Linked DNA regions of Homo sapiens. The protein of the gene in region 2 interacts with the protein of the main gene of each other region in a pairwise test. Each region holds a gene or a part of one and is shown on either strand. Other genes may lie near its edges.

Region 1 (3,500 bases), on a different chromosome or scaffold from region 2:
ATAAATCAATCTCACAGCTTGTGAAACTTTCTTACACAAGTAAGAAATCCTTGTTGTTTTTTCAGTAAATTTTTCATTGAGGTTTAATGTACCTACAGAGAAGTGCACAGGTCGTAAGCGCAGGTTGATGAATCTTTACAAAGTAAACATACCTATATAACCAGCACACAGTCAGGATTATCTGCACCCTGTAAGTTCCCCGTGACCCCCTTCAAGTAACTAAAACCTGAAGGGTAAGCCTACCCTGATTTGTAACACTAGACATTTTTCCTGTGTTGATTTTTTTTGCTTGTTGATTTCCGTCACTTCTCTGGTCTTCTAAAGTTCTAAGAAAGAATGGAAAAATCTGTCAACTACTTAAGTTTATTTAGTTAAAAAAAATGTAACCACTAAAGCCACTTTATAGAAAATAGAGAAAAGGAAACAGCACTTGTGATCCCACCACTCTATCAAAGCTTCTCTCCATTTCCCTGTAGTCCTTTTCACATGCGTTAATAAATATTGGACATATTACCTCATTGGTTTTAAAAATAATTGTATAGTGCTATCATTATGTAATATATGTAATATAGCGTAATCAAAGGAATCACACTGTTATTTTACTTTTTTCACTTTGTCATAAGCATTTTCCATATTGCTGTCTTATTTATAGTAATATTTAGAGATTAGTAATTTCTGAGTGTATTGTGTGTTTTTGAAATTCTATTGTTGGATATTTTGATTGCTTTTTTTGGTATTACAAATTAGTGGATTTTAGCTAGAAATTGGGAGGTGTGTCTTTTTGATTGTCAACAATGATTAGAGGGCCTGTTGGCATTTAGTGGGTAAATGTTAGCAACTTATAAGTAGTCTTAAACAGGATGAATTGTGCTAATCCATAGGGCCACTGAAGCCCAGTGAAGAAACCCTGTTATAAATAATGCACCAACTAATATTTTTGTACATGATACTGTATGCTTCGCTCATGTTTTGGCATATCTTTTTTGGTAGGTCCTCTGTCCTCTAAAGGATGTGTATTAATGTACTGATAAAATACTGGACATATTATTACCTCATTGGTTTTAAAAATATTGTATAGTGCTATCATTATGTTTAATAAAAGACAAAATAACCAGTTAGGGCCAAGAAATTTAATTGATGCCCAAAAAGTTGGTTCTTTGGTTTCTGCGTGTACTACCCACTGAAAAGTTTTAATTTTTTTTGAAAAATTGATAAGATTTTGTATTTTAAAAAACCAAAACTTTAAGTCAACGAATGAGGTCAAACTAAAATCTGCTAAATTTGGGTACTGCTATTTTCTTCTTAAAATTTATTTCTAAAATTTTATTTATTTATTTAGTTAAGTAGAGACAGGATTTCACCATGTTGCGCAGGCTGGACTCAAACTCCTGGGCTTAAGCAGTCCGCCTGCTTTGGCATCCTAAAGTGCTGGGGTGACAGATGTGAGCCACTGTGCCTGGCCTGCTAGTTTCTATAGATGCATACATTTAGACCAAATGGAATATGTCATCCCTTTTTATGTGTTTTTTTTTCCCCCAAGGTCTTCTTCTGTTGCCCAGGCTGGTCTTGAACTCTTGGGCACAAGCAAGTACACATTTGTTTGATGAGCTATCTGTTTGTTGGCTTGCTACTCTAATAATTTTAGTTTATAATGGTCAAAATAAAATAGTGTTACCTTGCCTGAAATTTTCAAATATTTGCATTTTTATAAAGTAAATGTAAGTTGGTCTTTATTTTAAGGAAGGTAATTGGAAATGAAGATTAAGAAAATTGGCCGGGTGCAGTGGCCCACGCCTGTAATCCCAGCGCTTTGGGAAGCCGAGGCAGGCGGATCACGAGGTCAGGAGTTCGAGACCTGTCTGGCCAACATAGTGAAATCTTGTTTCTACTAAAAATACAAAAAATTAGCTGGGTGTGGTGGTGTGCACCTGTTATCCCAGCTACTTGGGAGGCGGCAGGAGAATCGCATGAACCCGGGAGGCGGAGGTTGCAGTGAGCCGGGATCCCGCCATTGCACTCCAGCTCGGGTGACAGTGTGAAACTCTGTCTCAAAAAAAAAAGGAAAAGAAAAGAAAAGAAAATTGCTTAAATCAGTGGAGTAGCCGTACCTAATATCCATACTTCCATGATGATGCTGTTCAGAACAGACCAACATTTTTTTAACCAGTTCCCAGGCTTCTGAAATGTTGGTGGCATGTCTTCAGATGTAGTTGCATTACAAACCAGACTCAGAATTCCTATTCCTGTGGATGTTTTAAGTTTGAAATGAAGTAGATTTCAACTAGGGGTATTTGGAAATGTGGTTTTAGTTTTCAGTAGTGCTTACTTAACATTTACATTCCTTCACAAAAGGATCCGTCAGTTTAGGAAATGTTGCTTCAGAGATGACTGTCAGGCTCTTGAAGATTTCAGAGGCAAAAGAGTTATTCCTGTTGGAATTGCTAGGGCTTTAGTAGGTTATTATAATCACAGATTGTTTTTGGTTAAAAAGGACAGAAACAGTGTTACCCAAGGTACATCGAGAAGAGACATTATTATTAAAAAGAAAGATTTCACTGCGTTGAAAAATAAAGATTGTAGTACAGCCAGGCCTCATGGGAACTAGTACTGGGAACCAGAAGGGTATCAGCAATCAAGATGACTATCTGCTTCTTTCTCTGCAGTGGTTATTATCAGTTCAGTTTGTTTCTATCTACTCCATTTCTTTGCATACCTATTATGTACTCATCATCTGGCTTACAGCTTGCTGTAAGTCACCTTCCAGCCCAATAGAGAGAACCTGATTGATTGATCTAGCTCATTTGGTCGAGCCTGACTTCCAAAATTAGAGGTTGCTGGTCAGCCAGGGAAATGGGCCCTTGAGACTGGTGACTAATCATTTATGGCTAGAGAAGCTTATAGGATCTTTTGAGGGTTTCACATGAGGAAACCGTGCTAAGGCCTGTGCCAAAGCAATATAGAATGTCTTGGTAGCACATGTAGGAGGCTGTACCTAATGATTGCGGTATCTTAAGATGGTTTACCAGAAGACTTGGAAATTTGAGCCTTGAAGAAGAGTGGAATTAGCATTCAAAATGGGAGTTAGCGAGGACATCGTAACCAAATGGAACAGCATATATGAAGACCCATATGTTTGTGATGTGTTGCTGGAACCACAGGTATCATTTTTGGGTGCATTTCCATGACGAGGCAAGAACAGAATAGTACCTTTAAGGAAATTTGATATGTGGAGTGACACAATGAAATTTAGTGTTTAGAAAGATCACTGTGGGAGCTTTGGTGGAAGACCATTAATAAGGATTTGAGGTTGGGTGCTGTGTGATTTCTTAAAAGCTGTTAAGTAATCCACATGAGAAATGATGAGGGTCTGAATTAAGGCATTGGTAATGAGAATGATGAAAAAACTAATGTGACAAATATTTACAAGGTACTCTAAGCAGGATATATTGACCAATTGGATGAGGACAGAAAGGTCAAGGATAATTTATCAGTTAGAATAA
Region 2 (3,500 bases):
TGCTGAATCAGAAACCCTGGGGTTGGGGCCCAGCGATCAGCGTTTTAACAAGCCCCCCAGTTATGCTGCTACAAGCTCGAGTTTAAAAACCACTGAACTGGCCGGGTGCGGTGGCTCACGCCTGTAATCCCAGCACTTTGGGAAGCCGAGGTAGGAGGATCACTTGAGGCCAGGAGTTCGAGACCAGCCTGGCCAACATGGCAAAACCCCATCTCTACTAAAAACACAAAGATTAGCTGGGTGTGATGGTGCATACCTGTAATCCCAGCACTTTGGGAGGCCAAGGTGGGAGGATTACTTGAGGCCAGGAGTTCGAGACCAGCCTGGCCAACATGGCGAAACCCCATCTCTACTAAAAATACAAAGATTAGCTGGGTGTGGTGGCATGCACGTGTAATCCCAGCTACTCGGGAGGCTGAGGCATGAATGTTGCTTTAACCCAGGAGGCGGAGGCTGCAGTGAGCTGAAAGATTGCACCACTACACTCCAGCCTGGGTGACAGAGTGAGACTGTGCCTCAAAGGAAAAAAAAGAAAAAAGAAAAGGCAACCACTGAACTGAAATTTCAGAACATGGCATTATTTAATCCTTGTAGTTTTTTAACCCCATGTGGCAGATGCTATTAGCTTCATTTTATAGATGGTGAAACTGAGGCTCAGGGAGGCTAAGGAACTTGCCCAAGGATACACAGCTAAGAAATTAGTAGCTGTCAGATCTTTATGTGACCTTGTGTCTTTCCAATCCTAGGACAATTGTCTTTATTCCCATTCTCTGACTATATACTTCCTGAAGGCTCCGAAAGATTAGGTAACTTGTCCAAGATCCCACAGCTAATGAGTGGGGAAGCAAAGCTTGGAACATGATCTCTCCAGTTTTGAAGGATGTGCTACTCCCAACTCAGGCAGGAGAAGGAGGCAGAGATAGTCACAACCCTGGTCCCAGGCCTGCAGACTCGCTGTAGCCTCTGTGCCAGCTATTGCCATCAGAGTCTGGGTAGCAACGATACAACTAATTACCACCCAGTTGGGTAGGAGTGGAGGCCTCCTTCAGCCCCTCCAGGCACAAATTATTCCTGGGGATGTGAAGTTGAGCAATTATGGGAAGAGCCTCCATGTAAAAGGTAAAATTGCTGAGAAATTTATGTACTACCTGCAGTTTTATTGATCTGTAGAGGGAGATAAGAGTCAATACAGAATTCTCGGCTAACACTTACAGGTACTTTTCTTTTTATTTATTTTTCATGCAGCTAAGAACAGGTATTTCTAAGGCCAACAGCCCCAGTGTGGCCCACACTGAGGTCTGACATTAGGTATTCCTAATGCCAGATTCAGCCCCAGTGGGGTGAACACAGGCAGCATTTTTGAATCAAGGATGGCCTGCTTCATGGGGCCTGCCTGTTGGATCTTTGTTCAGTGAGTAGCAGTCACCAAACTGGATTGCTGCAAAGTCTCAGCAGGTCACCATATGATTTATCTCCCAAACTGGGACACCATTGAGAATAATGAGGTGCCGCTATTAGATACACTGGGACACCAGGATTAAACCAGAACAACAGGGCTTTCAGTGACTTAATAGCATGGAGTCTGATCCCCATGGGTGACCTGGAGCAAATTATACCACCTCTCTGAACCTCAGTTTCCTTATCTGTTAGTGGGAATATACCTCTAGATTTATGAGAGTAGAGGTGACCTGATGTAAAACTGGCAAGATGCCTGGCACCTGAGAGGCCTTCAGTAAATGATTTTAGGTGTTACTACTATTACCAAGTGGCAGTAACTAGAAGAGATCAGTAGCAGGAGTTGACTGGTGAAATCCTGGCGCTGGCATGGCTGGAGTGGATACTCCAGAAACATGGCCCGTGCTGAGTTGCAGCGTCAGCATGAAGCCCAGTGAATGTGACTGCCAGGCCCTTAGAAGCAAGGCAGGGGCGTGGGGGAAGGGTGTGGTCTGGCATGAGCCTGTTTGGGTTCTACACCACCCATCTTCGTGACTTCCGGCAAGTCACTTTACCTCACTGAGTCTCAGTTTCCTCATCTGTCAAATGGGGTGAGAACTGAATGAGATTATATCTATCCGTTGACCCTCCGGATTCACATTTGATAGCTGATGTCACTGTGGTCCTTATCAAGTAACGCCAGGAGTTTGAGGGATTTCTGTCATTAACCCCCCAGCTGGCCTGCCTGAACTCTGGCTTGCCTGGAAATCGCCTCTCAGTGGCAGGAACTATTACTTTGATGTGCTCAAATAGAAGAGCAGGCACCCTGGGGCCATGAGGCACAGCCAGCCTGGGTGAAGGAAGGCCCGGCCCTGGACAGTGCCCTGAACTCCTCATTCTATTTTAATTGTCCCAAAGAGAAGCCATTCAGTGGACGTAGGTGGACGTTGTAAAGGGAAGAACTAGAAGCTGCCTGGGCCGTGCTGTTCCTTACACTCCACAGCTTCTGATTTGTTTTCCTTGTCCCCTTTTCCTCTCAGAATGATGCCAAGGTCTTGGAGCAGCCCGTGGTGGTGCAGAGCGTGGGCACGGATGGACGTGTCTTCCATTTCCTAGTGTTTCAACTGAATACCACAGACCTGGACTGTAACGAGGGTGTCAAGAATTTGGCCTGGGTGGACTCAGACCAGCTCCTCTATCAGCATTTTTGGTGTCTCCCAGTGATCAAAAAGAGAGTGGTTGTGGTAAGTTGAGCCATCTCCTGCCTGACCCAGGAGGGCCATGCCTCCTCCTACCTGGTGTGAGCCTCAGGTGGGATTGCTGGGGTGCTCTGTGAGGAGAGCCCTGGCCCTGGGGACTTCCCACCCGGGATCTCTGCCTGGAGGACTCCTTCAGTCCCGCCCCTACCTAAGGCCCTGCCCAGTGCTCCACTCCAGCTCCTGCTTCCCTTTGCACCCTCCAGCCAATCCAGCTCCTCGCAGCTCCCAGGGTGCTCTGCGGCTTCATTAGCTCTGGCCTTTGTAGGTGCTGCTCCTTTTGTCTGGGAGGCTTCTTGCCTTCTCCCCTCCCCATTACTGTTTGTCAGGCTATCCTCCACTTGTCCTTCCAGGTTTAGCATAAGTGTTTCTTATTTTGGGAAACTTCTGACCACCACCGTCCCCATCCCAACCCTCACTTAAGTGCCTCAGGTGGGCTGCCCTGGCCTCCGTATTCCCCCATCAGAGCACGATCACATTGCTGTGCGTAGAACCTCTTCACATGTTTTTTTTCCTCCACCAAACAGAACTCCAAGCTCCTAGATCCTTGAGGGCAGGGTCTGGGGATGCATTCGTTTCATCCCACAGATACGGAGTTCCTCCTGCGGCACCATTGTGCTGCACCCCACTGCTCAGCTGACGGGGTCCAGGCCTGCTCTCTGTGTAGTGGGCAGTAGCAGTATCTAAATAAATTCCTGATAGAGCATCAGGCAGTAATATGCACCCTGGAGAGACCTACAGCAGGGTCAGGACTGCGAAAGCGGAGTAGGGGTACTGCCTGCTCTGGGACCAACCAGGCCCCACACAGGC

The links. Proteins that work in one complex are often made in the same cells at the same time.
Region 1: the proteins of MRPL37 (region 2) and SREK1 interact in a two-hybrid assay, tested with the Homo sapiens proteins (one large-scale study listed by BioGRID).

Annotation. Positions count from the first base shown.
Region 1 is NC_000005.10:66,147,300-66,150,799, forward strand, and holds part of SREK1 (splicing regulatory glutamine/lysine-rich protein 1), read left to right. Parts: intron 1-3,500. UniProt on the Homo sapiens protein: Participates in the regulation of alternative splicing by modulating the activity of other splice facors. Inhibits the splicing activity of SFRS1, SFRS2 and SFRS6. Augments the splicing activity of SFRS3.
Region 2 is NC_000001.11:54,213,667-54,217,166, forward strand, and holds part of MRPL37 (large ribosomal subunit protein mL37), read left to right. Parts: intron 1-2,474; coding exon 2,475-2,678; intron 2,679-3,500.